Homo sapiens: one gene and its partners. The protein of the gene in region 3 purifies or fractionates together with the protein of the main gene of each other region. This does not show direct contact. Each region holds a gene or a part of one and is shown on either strand. Other genes may lie near its edges. The genes, in order: BCL11A, SHPRH, MTF2, RMDN1, AEBP2, HJURP and HMGXB4.

Region 1 (3,500 bases), on a different chromosome or scaffold from region 3:
TATCTCAAAGAATGTTTAAAAAATCTGAAAGAAAAACTTCATTCAGATTTAACGGATAGGCTGTATCCAATCTTTAGGAGTTGTCCCCCGGTCAGACAAATGCAAGTCTGGAAAAGTTAGGAGGAGTGGCTGGTGCCGACTTAAGCAGACACAGCATCCTAGTTTAAGGAACAGTTAAAACAGCCAGCGCCATGACAGGCAGCAGGCTGAGAAATGCTACACTATCCTCCTCCTCATTGTTTTGAGAGGCTAACAACGTGAACCAAATTATACAACATCCTGCGCCCTCGGCTGGGACTCAGCTCCAGTTGAGAAAGAAACAGAAAGATACAGTTCAGCTAGTCAACTCTGGCCAGTAGCCAAGCCGTCTGGAGAGGGGCCCTGCTTAAGTCACATTATTTCCCTTGCTGAAAAGAACCCAAGAGTGGTAAATGCCACTTTGGCAAAGAAGGGCCAGCTTGACTTCACAAAATATTTCATTTGGGGAGATGGCTAAATTAAATATATATGGGGAGATAGCTACATTAAATATATATATATATGGAATAACTGACCAACAGTTTACTAGTCAACTGCAACATTAAAAAGGGCAGAAGTAATGGTAGCCAAAGGACGAGGATGAGAAAAACAAAACTTCCCAGAGATTCTGAAAAAAAAAGCCTTAAAATATAACTGAGAAATAACAAACTTTTCTCCTTCTTTTAAAAGAAGGGCTGCAAGAGTTCTTTAAGGCCACAGCTAGTATTTGTCAGTAACTTTCTAAGAAGGAAAAAAAAAAAAAATCTACCAGGGAGGTTAAGAGTGAGAATGAGGAATTAATCAATTATATGATGCCTCCATTTAGCAAGTCAGAAAGAAAAGCCGGCAGGGTCTTCTCAGGAGCCCCCAAACACTGGTATTCCAAAATAAGCCAGCCTCGCTCAAGCACTTGTCTAAATAATGGACTCCTGCCCTGACCTTGTAATTTACTTTACAACGCATTTATAATCCCACTCAATATATCTCACTCCTGGGTAAATCTCTTAAACAAGATTAGATGGTAAGATACCAAAATTAGGTTTCAAACATTTGTCTAATGTGGAAGGGGGAAAAAAGGCAGAAAGATTTTGAAAGAAAACGCTGACATTAGTATCACATTATCTGCCTATTTTTGTTTGCCTCCTCTCTTCAAAGGGAAATAAAAAGCTTCATTGAGAACATTTTTATAAATTTTTTGTTGTTGTTGAACAATAACTTGGGTCCCAAATAGGCTGGAAAAAAAACTATCTGGTTCCAACTACATGATCCTCTGTGGCTTCCTCCTTGTCCTCCCTAGATCTCTGGGTGACTATCATTCCTATTTAGCCTGACGATCTGAGTTGGGCAAGTAAAAAGATTTGTCTGATAATCCAAGTCCTTAACACGTTCATCACTCCAAATGCCTTAAAATTATATTTTACCTTATAAAACATCGATTGAAATCCAGGACTAGACTCATAATTAGTGGTGCTGGTTTCACATGTGCCATGAATTGTAGTCATTGATAAATGCCAAAATCTGTGGCATACAGCACTACATCAAGGATCTCATTTGTATCCTTTCAAAAAGGCTTAAATGAGAAAAGTCCATTTTATTTTGCTGCCCTGAGCATCCTAAACTTTTTTTCAGAGCCAGTTATGTGATCATGCTACAGTATGTTAACACTGTGATGTTATCCTCCCCTCTCTCTCATACATCAGGTCAGAGAAAATGGCATTTTATCTTATAATGAGCATACAACATACAGTTTTCACTATCGCATTTTAGTATTCCCATCAACTAGATATTCTAGATCATGAGGGCAGCTAGTGTAATCATAATGTCAATGAGAAGGGCTGTTACGATTGAGACTAAAGATTACATGGAGAGAGCTGCTTTGAAACTGGTAATTATTACCAGTCCACTAATAGCAAATGATGCATTACAATTTCACCATATAATCTGTATTTCACTCAGCTCATGCCGGTGTACCATATTATATTACAGTGCTCACAGATTCTAAATTCCTAAACTGCAGTCATCAATAAATGTGTTACTTGCCATAATTTGTGAAATTACTTTGTTCATAACATCTTTGATGATTTAGAAAGACTGGAATTGATTTCCTGTGTGGCAAAATTAGGGCTACATTGATTTATTGATGTGTAAAATATAATAATATTCTTCATTTACTCTGATGAAAATCAACTTCTCAATTTGAGAGCCTCATTGGGCATTTACGGGGATTGTTTTGATTTAGAGCAATAAACTGACACCTGGCCCCTAAGCATAGGAACTTGAGACATCAAAAGGGTTAAAATCAGCTATTAGCCCACCTACTGGCTTTTATTTTATTTCATTTTACTTTATGGGAAGGAATGACCCCCATTTCTAGTATGTCACCAATGTGAAAAAGTCATGTGATCTAAGCCTCAAGATTCAGAAGAACAAGGAGGTCTGAGACTGGAGGCCTAGCTCTATTATCCACTAGATTGTAACTCTGGGATAGTCATTTGATTTCTCTGAGTCTTGGAATTCCTATCTGTAAAATGAGCATAAAAACAGTACCTGTAAGAATTGTTGGGAAGTTCAAATGACAGAAGTATATAAAAGCCCTCTGTAAACTATCAGGTCGAATGTGAATGTGAGTTTTCATTACTACCAGGGGTGATTAATTACTGAGGGTAATGACTAACCACATTACACACCCCGAACGGCTTCCAGAGGAAGGTCCCAGTCCAGGCCTTAACCCAGGCCAAAAGGAGGCTCTAGTTAAAGAGCAGGGGTGACTGGCACACAGCAGAGTGGCCACAGGGAAGTGCTATGAGCTCTGGAAGCCAGGGGCAGCAGGTTAATGCCGCCAAGTGGAATGGGCATCAGGTTTGTTCTAGAGCTTTCTGGACCCCCACAACCCACTTCCACATACCTTGTTCTGGTCACTCCTAAATTGGTCCTGCCAGCAGGGGCACCAGCAAACTATGTACCCTCCCTTTGTGGGAAGGTGGGAGAGGACAGGGGTTCCCTATCAAGCTCAGACTTTCCTACCAGTCAAATCAAACTCCCAGCCCTCAGGAAGACCAGGCTGAAGACCGAGAACTATGTTTCCCTGGCAACAGCCCTTGGCCTCTCAACTCCACCCTCCTCTGAACTGCTCAACTCCCTTCTATCCCTTCCCTCCAAAAGTGGCTCCGTTTCCACAGCCCCATGCAGGCCCCAGATGCCCCCAGCAACAGGAGAGCTCTCCCCACCCAGCCAGCATGCAGGGACTAGAAACCGTGAGCCCAACCTCCTAAACCTTCTGCAATCTGTGACCTAACCCAGGCTTAGGCCCAGCTTGGGGGAAGGGAGCAGATGAGGTGCTTTTAACCCCTGAACCACCCAGCCCTCAGGACCTGAGGGCTTATGAAATTCACACAATAACTCTTTGTTACCTAGGATTACCTAGGAGTTAACAAAAATAAACAACTGGCTTTGAATCTGGTCTCAGGGTGCATGCCCTGCTC
Region 2 (3,500 bases), on a different chromosome or scaffold from region 3:
ACAAAAATTTAAACTTGAATGTTAACAGCTTTACTATTAAAAGCCCCAAACTGGAAGAAAACCCAAATGTCCATCAACTGGTGAATGGACAAATTGTGGCATAGTCACACAATGGAATACTATTCTGTGATAAAAAGAGACTTCTGTAAAATAACCTGAATGAACTGTTAAAGCATTATGCTAAACTGAAGAAAGCTAGATGTGAAAGACTATATACTATATGATTCCATTTACATGAAATTCTAGAAATGGCAAAAACCTGATTGCAGAAAGTAGATGAGTGGTTACCAGGGGCAAGGAAGTATAAAGAGGTGACTGACAGTAAAGGAGCAGGAAGGCAGGCTTTGGGGTGACATAAATGTTCAACACATGATTGCAGAGTATACATCTGTCAAAACTCATCAAATTATATACTTTAAATTGAATTTTCTTATACATAAATTATATCATAAAGTTGATTTAAAGAGCAAAAACAAAAAGATGCACGAGATTTAGAAATTTTAATATTAAGTATAACTTTATTCAATAAATCTGAAAAATCTAGATAAAATGATAAATTATAAAGTGATAAAATTTTGCTAACAAAATACAAATGAACAAAACTGGCCCAAGAAGGAAAATATGAATAGACCAATAACCATAAAAGAAACTAAAGTGACATTATTTACCTGCCTAAGGTCTATCCTCCTTCCCTGATGACTGAACCTTTATTTAGGAACAAGGTGGCCCTATGATTCAAAGGAAGTGATTTCCTTGGCACCTCCAAGGAAGTAGTTTCTAGCTACTATTGGCCAAAGCAAATCCAATAAGGTAGTTATTGGCTGCATGTGACTACTTAACTTTCAATACAGTTATGCATTGTATAATGACATTTTGGTCAATGAGGGACCAAATATTACAGTGGTTCCATAAGGGAGCTGAAAAATTCCTATGGACTAGTGACATCATAGCCATTGTAACATCATAATGCATTTATTTATTTATTTATTTATTGAGATAGAGACTCACTCTGTTGCCCAGCTGGAGTGCAGTGGCGTGATCTCTGCTCACTGCAAGCTCCACCTCCTGGGTTCATGCCATTCTCCTGCCTCAGCCTCCTGAGTAGCTGGGACTACAGGCGCCTGCCACTATGCCCAGCTAACTTTTTTTTTGTATTTTTAGTAGAGACGGGGTTTCATGTGTTAGCCAGGATGGTTTTGAACTCCTGAACTCAAGATCTGCATGCCTCAGCCTCCCAAAGTGCTGGGACTACAGGCGTGAGCCACCGCGCCTAGCCGCATTACTTTATTTTTTAATAAACTTTGTGTAGCATAAGTGTACAGTGTTTACAAAGTCTACAGAAGTGTACAGTAATGTCCCAGGCCTTCACATTCACTCCCTGACTAACCCAGAGCAACCTTCAGTGTTATAAGCTGCATTCATGCTAAGTACCCCACAAAGGTGTACTATTTTTTATCTTTTATACCATATCTTTATTGTACATTTTCTATATTTAAATATGTTTAAATATACAAATACTACGGTGTGACAACTGCCTACAGTATCCAGTACCGAATATACTGTACAGGTTTGTAGCCTAGGAGCAGCAGGCTGTACCATAGAGCCTAGGTGTGTAGTAGGCTGGCGGTACCACCTAGGTTTGTGTAAGTATACTCTTAAGATGTTCACACAACAAACTTGCCTATGATGCATTCCTCAAAACACAGCCCCATCATTAAGTGATGCATGACTATAAATAAAATTAAATGTTATAAACTCAGCTCTTCAGTCTCACTAGCCCCATGTGCTCAGTAGCGCTATGTGACTAGTGGCTACTGTACTGGACAGCACAAATATAGAGCATTCACATAATTGCAAAAAGTCTATGTATCAGACAGTGCTTGTTTAAGTCAATCATGAGAATTCTATTCCCTTAGCCCGTGCTTCACTTATGAATGTGCAGGTGATGGATTAAAATCAATCCTTGGCTATGGTCAACTACTTTTAAAGCATCTTATCCTCTCTTATCTTAGTGGAATAATATAGAAAGCTCTTAATTTCCTAAGTGTTTATGTTTGTCCAGTTTTCCTCAAAGCATAAGCTGGAATACTGAAAGTGGGTCACTCTGCAGGAACTTTAAAAAGTTATGCTATAGTAGCTTATCAGTTAACTACTGCCACAAACATGCTGTGTAACACACTACCTCAAAGCTCAATACCTTGATATAGCAATCATTTATTCTCATAGATCTGCACATTAGCTGAAGGAGGCTAATCTAGGCTAGGTTTCTGGAAAAGCAGTTTGGCTCTGCTTAATGTAGTTCCTATCCCCTCTCCTTGGATCAGCAAAGTAACTCAGGAATGTTCTTTATGGCAATGGTTGAGGTGTATTACTGCAAATCCAATCACACAAGTAGTTTTCAAAGTGCTTAAAAACCACTAAGGTGCCACAGACCAAAGCAAGACATATCCATGGACCCAATGTCAAGTGGTGAAGAAATATACTACACCTCTTTACTAGGTGAAACTGCACATGGCAAAGAGCATGGATATGGGGGGTGGAAGGGTAGAGGGAGTGTTGGAAGGGAATTGGGCCAGTTACACAATGTATCACACTAACCATAATAATATTAATAACATGGTTATTGTGGAATCATTAACTCTGAAAACCCAAAAAGCAACTGTCTAGCAGAGTCTCACATTAGCAAAGCGATGTGGCTTAAAGGTGAGAATGCAATGCTTTGAAGTCTTATATTCATTCTAATTCCAGCTTTGGCATTTACTGACTGTGTGGCATTGGAATAGTTATCCAGTCTTCTGTGCCAATTTTCTCATCTCTAAAATGGGGATGATAGCAGGATTGTGGTTAGAAATAATTTAAGTACAACAGCAGTACTAGAAATTTGGCCTGTATTCCATAAATGGTAGTTGCTACTTATCATCATCCTGAGAACACTCTAAACCAGCAGTTCCCAACCTTTTTGGTACCATAAATGGGTTTCATGGAAGACAAGTTTTCCATGGACCGGAGGAGAGGGGTGGAGTGGAGAGGGGGTTGTTTAGGGATGAAACTATTCCACCTTAGATCATCAGGCATTAGGTTTTAATAAGAAGTGCACAACCTAGATCCTGCGCATATGCAGTTCACGATAGCATTCATGCTCTTATGGTAATCTACTGACTGTTGATCTGACAGGAGGCACAGCTCAGGTGGTAATGCTCGCTTGCCCGCAACTCACCTCCTGCAATGCAGCCCGGTTCTAACAGGCCACGGACTGGCACCGGTCCATGGCCTGAGGGGTGGGGACCCCTGCTCTAAACCACATTTCACAATAACCAAACTGTAATGTCGCAGGATGGGGGACCACAGATTAGTGCTTCTCAAACTTGACTGCACATTAGAATCACCAGGGGAACTTAAAAAAATCCTGATGTCGAGCCAACTAAGTCAGAATGTCTTGGAGAAGGGCCCAGGCACTACTCCCTTTATTTTTTAGAATCCCTAAAAAATTCCAGGGTGCA
Region 3 (3,500 bases):
TCAAGTGCTGGGATTACACGCCTGAGCCACTACAGCTGGCCAAGATTTGATTAAAAAAAAAAAAAAAAATCAGACACCTAAATCCTTTTGTCCATAAAATGATTTTAAACTTAAGATTTTCATCAATAGCAGACTCCCCTCTGATATCTTATTTAATCCAGCCCTTCAGAAGGACAACGTTTTTGTTTATTGTTTATTTTTTTTTGAGATGGAGTCTCGCTCTGTCACCCAGGCTGGAGTACAGTGGCATGATATCGACTCACTGCAACCTCCGCCTCCTGGATTCAAGCAATTCTGGCACCTCAGCCTCTCATGTAGCTGGGATTTACAGGCGTGCGCCACCATGCCCAGCTAACTTTTTGTATTTTTAATAGAGATGGGGTTTCACCATGTTGGCCAGGCAGGTCTTGAACTCCTAATCTCAAGTGATCCACCTGCCTCGGCCTCCCAAAGTGCCGGGATTACAGGCGTGAGCCACTTTGCCTGGCCAGGACAACTTTTCTCTAAAGCACATCATGTCAGGTATGAAAAGGTTAATCTATTTGGGGTCAGAGCTACTATTTTCAAGTTTTATACTTCATTCTGTTTAAATTTTGTTCATAATTCGAAAACTGCTGTTATAAATTATGCAAAATTCTACATTAAATGCTTAAAGTGTAACCCATTTATTAATGAATTCTGAATAATCGACTTTTTTGGGGCCTCTTACTAGATACTCTGCTAAGCTTTTTACAAATATTGTCTTATTTAATTCTTAAAACAATTTTTTGGCTGGGTGTGGTGGCTTATGCCTATAATCCCAGCACTTTGGGAGGCCAAGGTGGGAAGATTGCTTGAGGCAAGAGTTTGAGATGAGACCCCATCCCTACAAAAGAAAAAAATTATCTGGGCGTGGTATTGGTGTCTGTAGTCCTAGATAATCAGGAAGCTGAGGCGGAGGATTACTTGAGCCCAGGAGGTCAGGGCTCCTGTGAGCCATGATTGTGCCACTGCACTCCAGCCTGGGCAACAGAGTGAGACCTTGTCTCAAACAAACAAAAGAGAACAATTTTTTGAGTTGTGTAAGTCCTGTTGTTCTCATTTTACAGATGAGGAAAGTGAGACTTAGGGGATTTTAAGTAACAAGCCCAACATTGCATGTTTAGCAAGTATAACAGAGCTGGGTTGTTAACTTATACAGTATGACTGTAGGTCTTTCAATTTAGTTGTTGTACTATATTCTCCTTTTATTATAAAATCATAAAATAATTGAATTTCTGTGCTGAAAAGGACCTCACACATTATCCAGTCTAACCCCTTCACTCATTAAGTTCATGAACATAGAGATTGAGATTTGAATTTGGCCAAGTAATAGAGTTAGGGATAGACCCAGGATACTCTGACTGCTAGTTTGTGCTTATTCTGATTCTGGTGTATTACTTCACTAGGCCTAGAACTGGTAATAAGAGAACCTCTATTCTAGTTCCACTCTTTAAGGACATGGAGCAGTGTCATAGATGTAGTTTGTGCTCATTAATTATTTGTTCTAATGAACAAATGAATGAGCTCTTTTAAATGATGTGATTATTGGCAATACCTGATTTATGAGTAGGGCCTCTTCGTAAGAATTTTCCTTGTTGGCCTCCTAAGTAAAAAAATTACCCTAAACTTACTAGTAGTTAAGGAAGAAAAGCTCCACAAAGTTCAGCTCCAAGAACGTGACAAAATCTAAAGTAATGAGCCCAAGTGATAGTCCATTTATATAGCATTTATTGTTTGGGTTTGGCTCATTTTTATATCATCAAGGATATATGGTATAGTAGAGTAATCCAGAAAAGAGAACATATTGTATGGGCATAGGATGCTAAAAAAGCTCAGTAGACAATTCTGGCCTTCTCTGTTACATAGATTATCTGACTCCAGAAAAAGAACGCGTACAGGAAGATCTTGGCCTGCTGCAATACCACATTTGCGGAGAAGAAGAGGTCGTCTTCCAAGAAGAGCACTCCAGACTCAGAACTCAGAAATTGTAAAAGATGATGAAGGCAAAGAAGATTATCAGTTTGATGAACTCAACACAGAGATTCTGAATAACTTAGCAGATCAGGAGTTACAACTCAATCATCTAAAGAACTCCATTACCAGTTATTTTGGTGCTGCAGGTAGAATAGCATGTGGCGAAAAATACCGAGTTTTGGCACGTCGGGTGACACTTGATGGAAAGGTGCAGTATCTTGTGGAATGGGAAGGAGCAACTGCATCCTGACTGTAGGACTGAACATTATGTTCACTGCACTCTGATTTTCTGTAGGTACAGTTCAAAGCCCTAAAGGAGTCTGGCTTTTACTATCTTTCTTAAAAAAAAAAAAAAGTCAAAAAAATTCAAAAAAGGGGATGATACTAGCCTTAACATGTACCTGTCAATGTTATGGATATTGTCATAAAAAGGTATCTTTTAAAAATCAGAACAGAGACTTAATTTTTTAAATCTTAAGATTTGTAGAATGTTTCTAGGATAGGATATTAAAAATGATTGAAACCCATGCATGGTGTTAGACAATTTTTCTAATTATTCCATTGAGTCAGTTTTTTGTGATTAGTGATTATCAGAGCAAACATCATGTAGATAGCACAAGTATTTGGAGAAACGTTGTTTGTTTTGTTACCAAAATGTTGGAAAAATTTATTTCAATACCTTTTAGATTTCATAAAGTGCAGTGTATATAATGCCTACTGAAAGACTGTAAAATATTGAAATTTTCTTTCAAGCAAAGTGTAAAAAAATATATTGAGCCTGTAAATTGCTCTGTGACTAGACTTCATTGTCGTCTTAATATATTCTTGCATGTGCATATATATACACACGTGTATATATATGTGTGTGATTATGTGACCTATGCAATACAAATTATGGGAATGGGCAGCTTTGGAGTATATATCCCATAATTCTTTTTTCAGGAATAGTTGCAGTATTTACACAGCAGCATTTCTTCTCAGGCTTTTATTGGGTGCTGTTGCTTGCTATGTATGAAGAGAAATGTGTCAGACAAGTTTAGTGTGTTCTGAAGAAGGGTGTGAACAACAGTGTTCATGGGCTTTTAGAATGCTTTTCACTTTTAGTCCTTGTAACTCAGCTGTTCAGTACCTAAAACAAATTCAAATAATATGAACATTATCTCCTACTAGAAGTAACGTTTTCAAGTTTTCATGGCACATTATGATTGTAAATGTCTCTCATTTTTAACAGTAAGTCTATAGGAGTCCCGTGAAGATTCCTGAAATGTCTGTAGTAACTGTTAGTCATGTTTGAATAAGTGTAGTATGAACAAAGTATTTTATTGCACAGGGTTAACAAACAGTATGTTGCCAGCTGAGGCTACTGCTGTTTTATTACAACATTACCTCTTGTTTTTATAAAGTGTACCAAGATTTAAATTGATAACTTTATTTTACTTGTAAAAAAAAAGTTTCTTTTATCACCAGTGTTACAGTTGTCTTCTGTTTCTTTTTGTTTTGTTTTA
Region 4 (3,500 bases), on a different chromosome or scaffold from region 3:
GAATTTATTCGTTGTACTAGTGAATTTTTAAGAGTCCATTATTATTGAAATTCCTACATACAATGTTAAGTCTGAAACTCTTTTTGTCCTACTTAAGCTACTGTTTTTGTAATGCATTCTCTAATGACATTTGATTTCTAGAAACATAACTAATTTGATAAAGTAGAGCTGACTATATTTTTTGTCCTTAAAATGACCTGTCTTAAAAAAAAAAAAAAAGAACCAGGTCTCACTCTGTTGCCCAGGCTGGAATGCTGTAGCGCAATCACTGTTTATTGCAGCCTTGACCTCCCAGGCTCAAGTGATCCTTCTCCCTCAGCTTAGCTGAGTGACTGGGACTACAGGCACAGGCCACCACACCTGGCTAATTTTTGTATTTTTTTTGCAGAGGTTTTGCCACGTTGCCCAGGCTGGTCTCAAACTCCCAGGCTCAACTGATCCACCAACCTTGGCCTTCCAAAATGCTGGCATTACAGGCATGAGCCACCGTGTCCAGCAAATGGGCATTATTTTAATAATACCATTATAAAATATTGGTGCATTATTTTAATAATATTTCTCAACTGTGTGTAAAGAATACAACTAAGTATTTTTTACATCAATTTCTACACTATAGCTTCCCAGAAAGAAAAAAAAGCTCCTTGTTATAATGTAAATAATACAAGTACAGCTTTTTCGATTGCCTGTTTTCTTACTCTGAAAAGCTTGTGATGAGTAAACCCAAAGTTTAACCAGAAATTCCTCTCAAATCTTATTTTTAACAAGAAAAGCAAAAGGCCTTGAAAATATGAGAGAATATGAACCTTTCATATGCTTTTTAAAATAGAAGTTATAATGAGTGTTCTTCTTTTATCAACTTAAGCATCTGCTTTACTTTTCTGTTATTGTGTGTAATACAGCTAAAACATGCTGGGTAACAGATGCTGTATTTCTTGTTCTATTTTATGACTTCAATATAGTTTAGATTTCAAACAGAAAATGAAGGTAGATTTTAGCCACGAGCCATTTTAGATGACAGTATTCCAGAATTACCAGCCACTCACCTAACGGGGAAAAAGAAAACCACTCACCAGTCAAGGATAATAAGTGTTAAGCCTTGTGATAACACAGTTGAATTGGATCATTAGAAATTGCTCAAGTCCCTCACTGAATCAGAGCTCCACATGTGTGAACACATGGTAGAATGGCGCTGTGGTTAAGAAATCCGTACTAACTTAACAAAGGACATCATACTACCTTCTCATAGGTGGAACTAGGAGGAGTTGCAAACAGCATTTTAGCAATTCTTCTTTGATACCAAGGCATTTCGGCAAATGTATAGCACCTACAGGGAAATAAAACAATTTTATACATTCAAATTGTACCTTCTTTTCTCTTAAAGTTAACTAAGCATCTTAATACTATAAAAGGAATCTTCTACTGTATGTTTAAACAACTTGTGCTTTACATGATATCTACTAGGTAATCCAGAGATTGACATAGTGATCCTTTAGCTGGGGGGTGTATTTTGTGATTAAATATAAATAGTAAGCAGTCATACTAATAACAGTAATATAATATACATCTACCACTGAGTGCATTGTGCCAGGTAGTGGGTTGATTCTCTCATTTATTCCTTGTAACAATTATATATGAGATAGGATAATTTCCCCTATTTTTCTTATAAGAAAAACTCAGAGAAGTTAAACCTTACACAAGAAAAATGACAAAGCTAAACATCAAATGTATAAATAACAGCAACCAACAACTTAAATCTATTTTTAAAGCAGCAAAGCAAATGATTAACCTCCAAAGATCTTTACAACTTTCAGAAATAAGTAGGAAAGAAAGTGTTGCATCTTTGACTAGGGTCTGAAGTCCTTAAGGCAGAAATTGCTATTTCATTTGGGTTTGCTTACTAGCATCTGACTTAGTGACTGCCCCTCAATTATCATTAATCCTCAGTGAATGAGTGTTAGCTTAATATGTCCTTTATCCTGAAGAATATATTTCTCTTTTAAAAGAGTTTGATACAGGACAGTTTACACTGGTACCCTTCTTAGATGGCAGTAAATATTCAGCTCTGCAGGCTATACTCAAAAGAGTGTCCCATCTATCTCAAAACAGACTCTTAAACCATCAAGTACGTAACACTTTGATAAAGCCTCATACCAGCAAAATAATAATCTACAGTGGACATAAGATCACATAAAAATAGAAAGATACTGAAAATCAGATTATATGGTTCCTCAGATTAATCAAGACTGTATCTGACACACTTTGAAGATACAAAGACCCTCTTGGGGCATTCTACTGTTTTACTATAGTTACATTAATCTAATTTCATTTAGCATGGTAAATAAGAATAGTCTTTTCAGTCTGTACATGTTTCTAAATGACCTGAATAACAATGTTTAACATGGTCATAATCAAATTTAGTATGTTCTAACAATATATATACAAGGGCTAGTTAATGGATTTAGCACTCTAAGCTCTGTCAGATAATATTTTAAAATATTTAATATCTTTTATATATGCAAAAGAAGATATTTATACATACTACAAAATATCACACTAAATACTACTGAAATATTTAAAGAAATTTTCTTACCAAATACCCATAAGGTGAATTGAAGTAGCATCTTTAGGGTTCAGTTCAATTGCTTTCTAACAAGAAATGAGAAAAATAAATCATATTTGTTTTCTAAACACCAATAAGTGCTTTACTGTGTTTGCTGAAGAAGCCATGATTTTTTAAAAAATGCAACTGTGTGTTTCAGTTCTCCCATTATAATATCAACTTTCTTCCTCCTGATTCTTTGATTAAATTCATTTCAAAACACTATTAATGACTTATACTAATGTTACTATTTTGTATGGTTCAGACATTTATAGTAAGTGTCTATCAAGATGAGAAAAAACATGAAATACATAAATGGATTAATTTTGCAAATTAATCTTGCAAATTAATCTATAGCTCTTAATGTTTCTTCCAAATTAAAGGAAAAATGGATAAGGAAGTACTTTCTTGGCAAACTGTAGATGAATACTGAATAAAAGTCATTCTTTCCTAAAGAAGAAAAGTGCATTTTAGTTTTTTAGAAAAAATGTAATTTTAGAAAGTCTCTTCTATGCAGATTTTAGAAAGTCTTTTCTATTTTTAGAAAGTCTTCTTGTATGCAGATTTTGTTCAACTTCCCCATCTGTACTTACCAAAGGAAAAATAAACAGTTTATAGAATATTAATAGAATAATTATGTGCAATGTAAAATATGTTGAATCTCCCTAATTTATATTTACTATGTGAATATAAACTACAGAATAAAGAAACTGTTCCTCCTTTTATCCATTATTTTGTTGAAAACAACTAAAGAAATCTTACAGATTAATGTTCATATTAAAAGGACTCTTTTTGAAAAAATTAAGATTTCCTAGTTTATGCTTTTCTATAAACCCACACTTTTGCTTTCAGTTTAGTAATGTGTGAGGTACACATTTTCAAATATTTGTAATGGTTAAGA
Region 5 (3,500 bases), on a different chromosome or scaffold from region 3:
CCTTGGCCTCCCAAAGTACTGGGACTACAGGCATTAGCCACTGCACCGAGCTAATTTTTCTATTTTTTTGTAGCGGCAGAGTCTTGTTTTGCTGCCCATGCTAGAAACGTATCCATTTTTAAAAGCAAAGATATTTTTGTAGGATGCTTCAGATATGAAAAATGTCTCAGGTTTTCCTTTAAAGGATATTCTAGTATTTAAGCTCATCTATCTACCTACCTAGTTAGTTAAATGCAATAAATATATATTTACCTGCCTAGTCAATATAGATTCTAAAGTGCAACTCTAAGGCTTCATTCTAAAACTCTGTAATCTCTGTAAAACTCTCAAATGTGAATCAGCTCTTGAATATCTGAATATACATATATTGTTTGTTGTTGCAAGACTAACCTTGGGTATGGTGGTTTTTCTATACCGAAATACATATTTTATTTAAACCCTAGAAATTTCAAGTTTCCCCCGGCCGGGCGCGGTGGCTCACGCCTGTAATCCCAGCAGTTTGGGAGGCTGAGGCGGGCGGATCACGAGGTCAGGAGATCGAGACCAGCCTGGCTAACACAGTGAAACCCTGTCTCTATTAAAAACACAAAAAATTAGCCAGGCATAGTGGCAGGAGCCTGTAGTCCCAGCTACTCAGGAGGCTAAGGCAGGAGAATGGCATGAACCCAGGAGGCAGAGCTTGCGGTGAGCCCAGATCGCACCACTGCACTCCAGCCTGGGCAACAGAGCGAGACTCTGTCTCAAAAAAAAGAAAAAAAAAGAAATTTCAAGTTTCATGAGGCCCTTAACCCTGAAATGGTTACCTATTTTCCCTATCACTTGCTTTAAATATTTTAAAACATTCAACTGTAAAGCACATACTTACATAAACTATACTAATTTAACTCCAAGGCAAATACTAATAATTCTAAGTGAACAACCAATCATAACCAATTTATAAACAATCTCAGGAAAAGCAATAAAAACTCAATGTGATATGGAACAATCTCCAAGGTATAGTTAAGTAAAACACACACAAGTGCAGGGTAGTCATGATCCAATTTGCATACCTAAGTTGGGGAGGGAGACAGAGACATAGCTAGTCTCCAAGGGCACAGAAAGATATACGAAACCTAGTAAATATTTGGGGGAAGGGAAGAGTGGGAGAGAAACTTATCTTTCACTGTATATACCCTTTTATACCATTTTAACCATGCTGTACCTATACTGCTTTTATTAAAAAGTCCAAAATTAGTTGAAAACCAAATCGATTTTTTTTAACTGGACACAGTAAGGTTAAGAGAGATTTATATAGCTGCGAAACATCATTATGGAATCTGTCTGTCTACATAGTACTTCATGTACTTTTGCTTATTACCTTTGCCAAAGAAAAGGAACCATATAAAAAAGTCCAAAATCTGGTAACGGTAATCATTGTTGAGTCTATGTGTGATATCACACACTTGAAACAATACTTCATGTGGATATAGCTCCTCATAAAGACAACATAATGTAAATGTTAAGAGCATGAGCTTTGCCTACCACTGGGGACTAAGCTGTGAATACAATGGCAGACAAGGTGAGAGGCACGTCCTGGAACACTCAAGACATCCCACACAGAGTCTCCCCCAAGCTGAACAGGGCCAACAGAAGTTCTGCTTCACAACCCCTCTTAGGCTCCTCCAACTTCTAGGAAGTATCCAATCCTAAGCCTCTAGGCTCCCTTTTGGCCCCAGACCCATGCTGCCACCAGTGGTCCTCTCCATTCTCTCGACTGATGAAGGCAACAGACCTGATGCAACAGTAGAGGACAGAAAACAAATGACAGGTAACTTCTGATTGTGACAGGACCCTGAGCTAGATAGCAATTTCACAGAAAGCAGTGCCCTTCCTCCTATAATACGTTATGTAACAAGAGACAATCCACCTAAACTTATAGTATTTCTAGGACCATACATATGTTAAATTTTTTCACACAGTTAATTCTCCTTTTCAATGAACACCTACTGATTTCATGAAATGTGAAGACCTATACACCCTGATATTTGGAAGAATACCTAAGCCAGACAATACACTCACACTATGCAGATAGCTTAGATAATCTAAAGCAGTGTTTCTCAAACTTTCATGTGTATACAAATCAAATGCAGATTCTGCATTCAGTATTATTAACTGCAGATTCTGATTCAGCAGGTTTAGGGTAGGTCCTGAGATAAAGCATTTCTAACAAGTGCCCGCTTGATGCTGCTGTGACATTTTGACTAGTAGGAACCGAAAAGATCTCTCTGACTAGCTTTTTTTTCTTTTCACAATGGGTTTGCCGCCAGAACACAGGTGTTGTGAAAACTACCCCTAAAAGCCAAAATGGGAAAGGAAAAGACTCATATCCACATTGTCGTCATTGGACACGTAGATTCGTACAAGTCCACCACTACTGGCCATCTGAACTACAAATGTGGTAGCATCAACAAAAGAACCATTGAAAAAATTGAGAAGGAGGCTGCTGAGATGGGAAAGGGCTCCTTCAAGTAGGCCTGGGTCTTGGATAAACTGAAAGCTGAGCGTGAACGTGGTATCACCATTAATACCTCCTTGTGGAAATTTGAGAACAGCAAGTGCTACGTGACTATCATTGATGCCCTAGGACACAGAGACTTAACCACAGAGACTTCATCAAAAACATGATTACAGGGACATCTCAGGCTGACTGTGCTGTCCTGATTGTTGCTGCCAGTGTTGGTGAATTTGAAGCTGGTATCTCCAAGAATGGACAAACCTAGGAGCATGCCCTTTTGGCTTACACACTGGGTGTGAAACAACTAATTGTCGGTGTTAACAAAATGGATTCCACTGAGCCACCCTACAGCCAGAAGAGATATGAGGAAATTGTTAAGGAAGTCAACACTTAAATTAAGAAAATTGGCTACAACCCCGACACAGAAGCATTTGTGCCAATTTCTGGTTGGAATGGTGACAACATGCTGGAGCCAAGTTTTAACATGCCTTGGTTCAAGGGACGAAAATCCTCCTGTAAGGATGGCAATACCAGTGGAACCATGCTGCTTGAGGCTCTGGACTACATCCTACCACCAACTCATCCAACTAACAAGCCCCTTTGCCTGCCTCTCCAGGATGTCTACAAAAATTGGTGGTATTGGTACTGTTCCTGTTGGCCGAGTGGAGACTGGTGTTCTCAAACCTGGTATGGTGGTCACCTTTGCTCCAGTCAACATTAAAACTGAAGTAAAATCTGTCGAAATGCACCATGAAGCTTTGAGTGAAACTCTTTCTGGGGACAATGTGGGCTTCAATGTCAAGAATGTGTCTGTCAAGGATGTTCGTCATGGCAATGATGCTGGTGACAGCAAAGATGACCCACCAATGGAAGCGGCTGGCTTCACTGCTCAGGTGATTATCCTGAACCTTCCAGGCCAAATAAGTGCTGGCTATGCCCCTGTACTGGATTGCCACACGGCTCACACTGCATGCAAGTTTGCTGAGCTGAAGGAAAAGATGGATCG
Region 6 (3,500 bases), on a different chromosome or scaffold from region 3:
TTACCCCAGGGGCGCTGGTAGCTTTCTTTGTCTAGCATTATACTCAGACCACAAGAACACCTAGGGGCCAACCGGACGGTGGACAAAGAAGACCCAGTAGATCCGTTCGTTCCTAACCCTAATCTGTTCCCTGGATCAACACAGCAACCAAGAGGACACCACTTGCTGCCTTGGGTTAAAGGAAAAAGCATTTCAGGTACATCCACTAAGTCGGTGGTCCACAAATACAGGCTTTCCGCTGGTCAGCAGCACAGTAAGAAAACACATACACCCCTGTGAGATTGCTGCCTTTTTCTGGAGATGAATTCTTATTCTGCAATGTGTACTTCCTAAGTATTTGGTGTTGCAATGTCCTTTATTCTATGGCAGAGGGCACTGACCTTAAGAGAGGGGTTGGCAGGTGAGTGTGCCCACCTCTCATGCCATCACATCCCCCCCCTCCCAACATGACCTCTCAGCAGGCGGGACAGGTGCCAAGGGTCAGCCTCCTCACCTTGCAGCTGATTCTAGCCTGATCGCACCAGGGAATGTGGGGACTATTGCTTCCCTAACTATGCAGCTTCAAATCCTGGTCCAGAGGTCAGGGCTGCTCTTAAGAGTCCCGTGTGTGGCCCCAATAGATTTTTTTTTTTTTGAGATAGAGTCTTGCTCTATCACCCTGGCTGGAGCACAGTGGCACAATCTCAGCTCACTGCAACCTCCGCCTCCTGGGTTCAAGCGATTATCCTGCCTTAGCCTCCCAAGTAGCTGGGATTACAAGCACGCACCACCACACCCAGCTAATTTTTCTATTTTTAGTAGAGATGAGATTTCACCATGTTGGCCAGGCTGGTCTCAAACTCCTGACCTCAAGTGACCCACCTGCCTTGGCCTCTCAAAGTGCTGGGATTACAGACATGAGCCACTGTGCCTGGCTGCCCCACTAGATTTTTCTGTGAGTTGCCCCAGAACAGTGGGCAGAGCACCCCTGCCAGGGCTCCCACCTTCCTGATGGCGCTGCCCTGGGGGACCTGGAGTGTTTATTCAAGAAGAGCAAGTATGTCAGCATGTGAATAAAACAATTTGGAAATCATTACTTCAAATGCTCTTTATGGGTTCTGTAGAAAAAACAAAAAGCATAATAACACTGTACCTCAATGTATTTAGTTTATGATCTAATTATATAAAAACAAACAACTGGGAAACAGATTACCTCAAAATACTCTGCACCTTGTAGCAGTATATCCACTTGGGTCAAGTATTTCCTTCTTAATTCATTTTTCAAAGGGCTTTGAGGCACTGCAGGCTGATCAAAAAAGAGAAGTCAGAATTTTTAAGAGCTTCTGAGTATAGCTGACCTTTTGGCTTCTGGAACAAACTGGCAAGCTCATTAATGTACAAATCTTTACATGATCCTACTCAAAGTCACTTTCACCTCCATGATGTTATTCAAAGTCACTTTTTCACTTCCTGCTATGTTAATAATCCAAAAGAATGTAAAAAGACACACACACACAAAAAAACCATGTCTAGAGAAGTTTATGACAGCATTGCTAGACCAGGAAAAAAAAAATCTGAATATTCATAGGTGAGTTCAGGACTCAACTACTGGTAATAACTTCAAACTGGTAAGTTTATAAGAAATTCAGTGCTCCTGGCTGGGTGTGATGGGTCATGCCTGTAATCCCAGCACTTTAGGAGGCTGAGGCAGGTGGATCACTTGAGGCCAGGAGTTCGAGACCAGCCTGGCCAACATGGTGAAAGTCCATCTCTACTACAATACAAAAATTAGCTGGGCATGGTGGTGGGCGCCTGTAGTCCCAGCTACTTGGGAGGCTGAGGCAGGAGAATCGCTTGAACCCAGGAAGTAGAGGTTGCAGTGAGCTGAGATTGCCCCACCGCACTCCAGCCTGGGTGACAGAGTGAAACTCCATCTCAAAAGAACCAAAAACAAAAACAGAAATTCAGTGCTCCAGCTCAGGAGGCTCTCCTACCCCTCCCCTGCTAGACACTGGAAATAGAGGGCGTCACCCTCTATCCTCTGCTGAGTGGGGCTGGCACTTTGGTTCTTGACTCTTGGTACCACCCACTTCCCCTTTGTTCCAATCCCTACACAATCTCTCAGTGAGCATCCACTTTCTTCCCCAGGACCACGGCCTTTTTCTTAGTCACTGAAAGTCACACATGGGTGCGTGGGAAACCCTCTGCACAAAAGTAGCAATTTTAGAGGAAAACCATGCATCAGGTATTCTGGCAGGCAACAGAGTGTGACACGGGGGCCAGGAAAGATGCTGGAGCTGGTTAAGCTCTGTGTAAATTCGCATCTATCCCAACCAAGGAGGATAAGAAGCACATCCCATAAGAAAACGGGTGGTTTCTGTGACCCAGGGGGCACTCTGGGAAACAGACATATAGATGACACTTACTGTTTGGGTTAGTGACGGCTGCCCAATGAGGCGACCTTGTGACTTGGGGCATTTGAGGACAGACCTGGAAATACTCCCTAGAACACCTCTCTTTTTACCCTGCCCCTGTAGGGGAGACTGACCGAGAGCCCAGCTTTCCTGTCGTGTGCTCATCCAGGCAGATGGCGCCCTGCCAACCACACTGACAGCTTTATCTGCAGAGTGAAAATCATCGTGAATCAGGCTTGCACTGGGGGTAGAACTGGCTGCCAGGTGCTAGACTGAGAGGAGGGCCTTACCGCTGAAGGGAATCGACACGAGGAAATCCGAGACTTGGAAGTAGCAAAAGCCAGCCTCAGGAGAGGACTTCCAGAAAAGTGCAGGCAGCGCTGCCCGCCTCAGGCCACATGGGCTTTGATGGACCCCTGAGCCCCCAAGCGCCCCCTCTGTCCATTCATTACTAAAGGCAGCACTTACTGCTAAGGCCCAAGCAACTGACTCTTCCTGGTCTGACGTGGCATCGACCTCACCGCTTTTTGAATCTAAAAGTCAAACAAGTAAATCTCAATCAGGATTTTCAGGAAGGAGTGCATTTTCCTCTCAAGGATGGTTTTGGCATCACTTCGAGTAAGTTGTACAGTAAAAATCCCCATTGCTTCAAGGGTGCACCCACTGGAGCCATCTACGGCTGCCCGTGGTTCTTAGTAACCCAGAGAACCCCTAGAATGGGAAACTGCCTGGGGCCATGGAGTGAGGAAAGGCAGATTCTGCACCACCTCCAGCTTTCCATGGCCTCTGAGCCTGGAAGTTGAGACGCTCAAGCCCAGCACTGCTCGACAGAACTTCCGGTGACCATGGAAAGTTCTCTGCCTGCTGTCCTAGGCCAGCCACTAGCCACACCGGGCTACTGAACAGCTGGGATGTGGCCAGTAAGGCTGAGGAAATGGATTTTAAATTTTATTTCACTTTCAACTAATTTAAATATCATCCAGAGAGGGCTGGTGGGTGCCATACTGGGCAGTACATCTATCAAATAACTATTTCCTGTGATTTCAAGCGGTTGGGGAAATTCATGGACCTAAGGATTTATAGTTAAAATCTGGATTAATAGCAGTA
Region 7 (3,500 bases), on a different chromosome or scaffold from region 3:
GGGAAATCCTTCTTTGGTTCTAATCATTCAGAAATTTGGTAAAAACCTAACATCTTTTTTCAAATTCTACACATATTTTTTAACCTAAGTTGATAGGCCTTGTATTGTGGGATCAAATTAAAGACACCAGAGGCAGGATGCAGTGGCTCATGCCTATAATCTCAGCACTTTGGGAGGCTGAAGCAGGAGAATTGCTGGAGCCCAGGAGTTTGAGAGCAGCTTGGGCAACATAACGAGACCTCATCTCTACAAATAATAATTTTAAAAAATAGCTGGGCGTGGTGGCTCACGCCTGTAATCCCAACACTTTGGGAGGCCGAGGTGGGTGGATCACCTGAGGTCAGGAGTTCGAGACCAGCCTGGCCAACATGGTGAAACCCCGTCTCTACTAAAAATACAAAAATTAGCCAAGCATTGTGGTGCACGCCTGTGATCCCAGCTACTCCGGAGGCTGAGGCAGGAGAATCACTTGAACCTAGGAGGCAGAGGTTGCAGTGAGTTGAGATCACGCCACTTCACTCCAGCCTGGGCGACAGAGCGAGACTCCGTCTCAAAAAAAAGAAAAAAGAAAAAAATTTTAAAAAATTAGCTAGGCATGGTAGCCCACGCCTGTGGTCCCGCTACTTGGGAGGCAGAGGTGAGAGGGTGGTTTGAGCCCAGGTGGTTGAGGCTGCTGTGAGCCATGATCACACCACTGCAATCCAGCCTGAGCAACAGAGCCAGACTCAGTCTCAAAAAAAGACACCAGAAAGATGCTTAAGGAATAAATCCCTAGGGAGTAGATGGGTTACGAGTTGAGACTGTCTCCTGACCATCAAAACATCCCCTTCCCTATAGAAAAAAATCAAAGAAGAGTGATGGGATTGGGGTTGGTTTTCTGAAAGCATCTTGCAACATTTAAATATGAGCTTCAAAACCCTTTTCCAGTTTTTGCTTTCACCAATCTTCTATTTTGTTAATAGCTAACCCTTTACTGTATTGAGTGTTTTACTCTTTTATGCCAGATTTTGGGGAACTTAGTAAAAAACTGGCTGAGGTGTGGAAGCAATTACCAGAAAAAGACAAACTGGTAAGTACATTTTCTTACAAACATATTTTTCAGTGCTTCTCGCCTTCCAAAATATGTAATTCTTCCATAGACTAGCCAGCCAGACAGCACTGAAAATAGTGAAGAAAATTACAAATCAACAGAAAATGGTTTAGCAGAGGACATTAACACTGTTAGTGCCAGTTCACTGTACATGAGGATTTAGCTATAGCAAGGCTGTCTTTTCTAACCTGGTCTGTTTTTTCCAGCAGTGTTACATTTGAGCCAAAAGATGACCTAAGTTGAGGAGTAATTAAAGTGTTAAAAGAAAGTCTAAAATCAGAGCCCTTTACTGCAAACACCTAGTAATCAGTCATGGTCTGAGAACTGAGGAAAGTTATCCACTTAGCAGTCACTGCAAACAATAAAAATATGAGAATGTGATTACTAGGTAACCAGGTTCAAGGTCATCATCCTCATCAACCATTACCAAATAATGTACTCTACTATCAAGAAGGTAGTAAGACACTGATAAACAGTCATATCTGGGCTGGGCACGGTGGCTCACGCCTGTAGTTCCAGCACTTTGGGAGGCTGAGGCGGTGGATCACCTGAGGTCAGGAGTTCGAGACAAGCCTGGCTAACATGGTGAAACCCCATTTCTACTAAAAATACAAAAAATTAGCCAGGCATGGTGGCGCATGCCCGTAATCCCAGCTACTCGCGAGGCTGAGGCAGGAGAATCACTTGAACCCCGGAGGCGGAGGTTGCAGTGAGCCAAGATCACACCATTGCACTCCAGCTTTGGGCAACAAGAACAAAACTCCATCTCAAAAAAAAAAAAAAAAAAAAAGTCATATCTGAATCATTGAGACTTATGATATGAAGGTCATATAGGAGCAAGATGTCATCTAGATGAACAGCCATTCTTCACCCAGATTATCCTTAGTTTTTGTTTTCCTTGTTATTGTTATTCTGCTATTGTGTTGGTATTGCCAACTAGCAGGTTAGTAGAACCACATAGACATTATATTGAGCCAGAGGTTTAATCTGTGATTTTACATTTCAACTTAGAGTGATCTAAAAATCAGTGCCGAGATTTGACCATTAGCATTGAGGAATGTTTATAGTCCTTTACTAAGATATTAATGTAGTCAGCTGTCTGAAGTCAGTTCGGTGACCCCCAGCTTAAAAGTTAGCATTAACCCTCTGTCTGCCCGCCTCTTACTATTGCCTTTCTTTTCTCCATTTTGTTCTTTCATGACTGCTTTTCCTTTTACATTTTGTCCTTCTTAATTTAATTTAATGTTCACTGATGTGATTGCAGATTTGGAAGCAAAAAGCTCAGTATCTGCAGCACAAACAGAACAAAGCAGAAGCCACAACTGTGAAAAGGAAAGCATCCAGCTCAGAAGGTTCCATGAAAGTCAAAGGTAGTGACCACATCCCGCCCCTGCTTTTCTCTAAAGCATGTGAATTTTGCTTCCTTGCTAAGAAACTGGGAAAAAAGCTTGCAGTATTAGAAGTGGACCTTGATTCCCAGGTATTATTACCTGGGAATGTTACAAGCTACCAAAAAGAGATGTTCAAATTTAGAAAATGCAAATCAGAAGTCAGCAAACTTTTTCTTTAAAGGTCCAGAGAGTAGACCAGGCGCAGTGGCTCATGCCTGTAATCCTAGCACTTTGGGAGGCCAAGGTGGGCGGATCACCTGAGGTCAGGAGTTCGACACCAGCCTAACCAACATGGAGAAACCCCGTCTCTACTGAAAATACAAAATTAGCCGGGCGTGGTGGCGCATACCTGTAATCCCAGCTACCAGAGAGGCTGAGGCAGGAGAATTGCTTGAACCCGGGAGGTGGAGGTTGCGGTGAGCCGAGATCGTGCCATGGCACTCCAGCCTGGGCAACAAGAGCAAAACTCCATCTCAAAAAAAAAAAGGTCCAGAGAGTAAATATTATAGGCCTTGTGTGCCGTATGCATTCTCGCATTCTCTGTCACATATTCTTTGTTTTTCTATAGCCCTTTAAGAATGTAAAACTATTCCTAACTCACAGGCCATAAAAAACAAGAGACCATAGACTGAATTTAGCCCACAGGCCACAGTTTTGCTAATGCCTGGTATAATTCATAAAAAGGGAAAATCAGGAAGAACAACTTTGTGTTGTTCAAGGCTGTAGGCAAGTTTTACCTGTCTGCCTCATTGCTCTGTTCTCAGCCTCTTCTGTAGGAGTACTGTCACCCCAGAAGAAGTCCCCACCCACCACCATGCTGTTACCAGCCTCACCAGCCAAAGCCCCTGAGACAGAGCCCATTGATGTTGCTGCTCATCTTCAGCTGTTGGGAGAGTCCCTAAGCCTCATTGGACACCGTCTGCAGGAAACTGAGGTGAATACAACTATCAGCAGCATGACTACAGTTTCCCATATAGTTTCCCATATAATTTTGATTCATTCACTCATTTTACATACAT

What was found.
Region 1: the proteins of MTF2 (region 3) and BCL11A purify together in Homo sapiens (affinity purification with mass spectrometry, with the first as the bait; one large-scale study listed by BioGRID). This does not show direct contact.
Region 2: the proteins of MTF2 (region 3) and SHPRH purify together in Homo sapiens (affinity purification with mass spectrometry, with the first as the bait; one large-scale study listed by BioGRID). This does not show direct contact.
Region 4: the proteins of MTF2 (region 3) and RMDN1 purify together in Homo sapiens (affinity purification with mass spectrometry, with the first as the bait; one large-scale study listed by BioGRID). This does not show direct contact.
Region 5: the proteins of MTF2 (region 3) and AEBP2 purify together in Homo sapiens (affinity purification with mass spectrometry, with the first as the bait; one large-scale study listed by BioGRID). This does not show direct contact.
Region 6: the proteins of MTF2 (region 3) and HJURP purify together in Homo sapiens (affinity purification with mass spectrometry, with the first as the bait; one large-scale study listed by BioGRID). This does not show direct contact.
Region 7: the proteins of MTF2 (region 3) and HMGXB4 purify together in Homo sapiens (affinity purification with mass spectrometry, with the first as the bait; one large-scale study listed by BioGRID). This does not show direct contact.

The regions. Positions count from the first base shown.
Region 1 is NC_000002.12:60,463,155-60,466,654, forward strand, and holds part of BCL11A (BCL11 transcription factor A), read right to left. Parts: intron 1-3,500. UniProt on the Homo sapiens protein: Transcription factor. Associated with the BAF SWI/SNF chromatin remodeling complex. Binds to the 5'-TGACCA-3' sequence motif in regulatory regions of target genes, including a distal promoter of the HBG1 hemoglobin subunit gamma-1 gene.
Region 2 is NC_000006.12:145,957,859-145,961,358, forward strand, and holds part of SHPRH (E3 ubiquitin-protein ligase SHPRH), read right to left. Parts: intron 1-3,500. UniProt on the Homo sapiens protein: E3 ubiquitin-protein ligase involved in DNA repair.
Region 3 is NC_000001.11:93,134,783-93,138,282, forward strand, and holds part of MTF2 (metal-response element-binding transcription factor 2), read left to right. Parts: intron 1-1,887; coding exon 1,888-2,245; 3' UTR 2,246-3,500. UniProt on the Homo sapiens protein: Polycomb group (PcG) protein that specifically binds histone H3 trimethylated at 'Lys-36' (H3K36me3) and recruits the PRC2 complex, thus enhancing PRC2 H3K27me3 methylation activity.
Region 4 is NC_000008.11:86,477,687-86,481,186, forward strand, and holds part of RMDN1 (regulator of microtubule dynamics protein 1), read right to left. Parts: intron 2,647-3,500; coding exon 2,591-2,646; intron 1,325-2,590; coding exon 1,237-1,324; intron 1-1,236.
Region 5 is NC_000012.12:19,456,492-19,459,991, reverse strand, and holds part of AEBP2 (zinc finger protein AEBP2), read right to left. Parts: exon of another isoform or gene 2,283-3,500; intron 1-2,282. UniProt on the Homo sapiens protein: Acts as an accessory subunit for the core Polycomb repressive complex 2 (PRC2), which mediates histone H3K27 (H3K27me3) trimethylation on chromatin leading to transcriptional repression of the affected target gene.
Region 6 is NC_000002.12:233,844,536-233,848,035, forward strand, and holds part of HJURP (Holliday junction recognition protein), read right to left. Parts: intron 2,927-3,500; coding exon 2,862-2,926; intron 1,286-2,861; coding exon 1,193-1,285; intron 1-1,192. UniProt on the Homo sapiens protein: Centromeric protein that plays a central role in the incorporation and maintenance of histone H3-like variant CENPA at centromeres.
Region 7 is NC_000022.11:35,284,993-35,288,492, forward strand, and holds part of HMGXB4 (HMG domain-containing protein 4), read left to right. Parts: intron 1-1,004; coding exon 1,005-1,069; intron 1,070-2,354; coding exon 2,355-2,460; intron 2,461-3,245; coding exon 3,246-3,415; intron 3,416-3,500. UniProt on the Homo sapiens protein: Negatively regulates Wnt/beta-catenin signaling during development.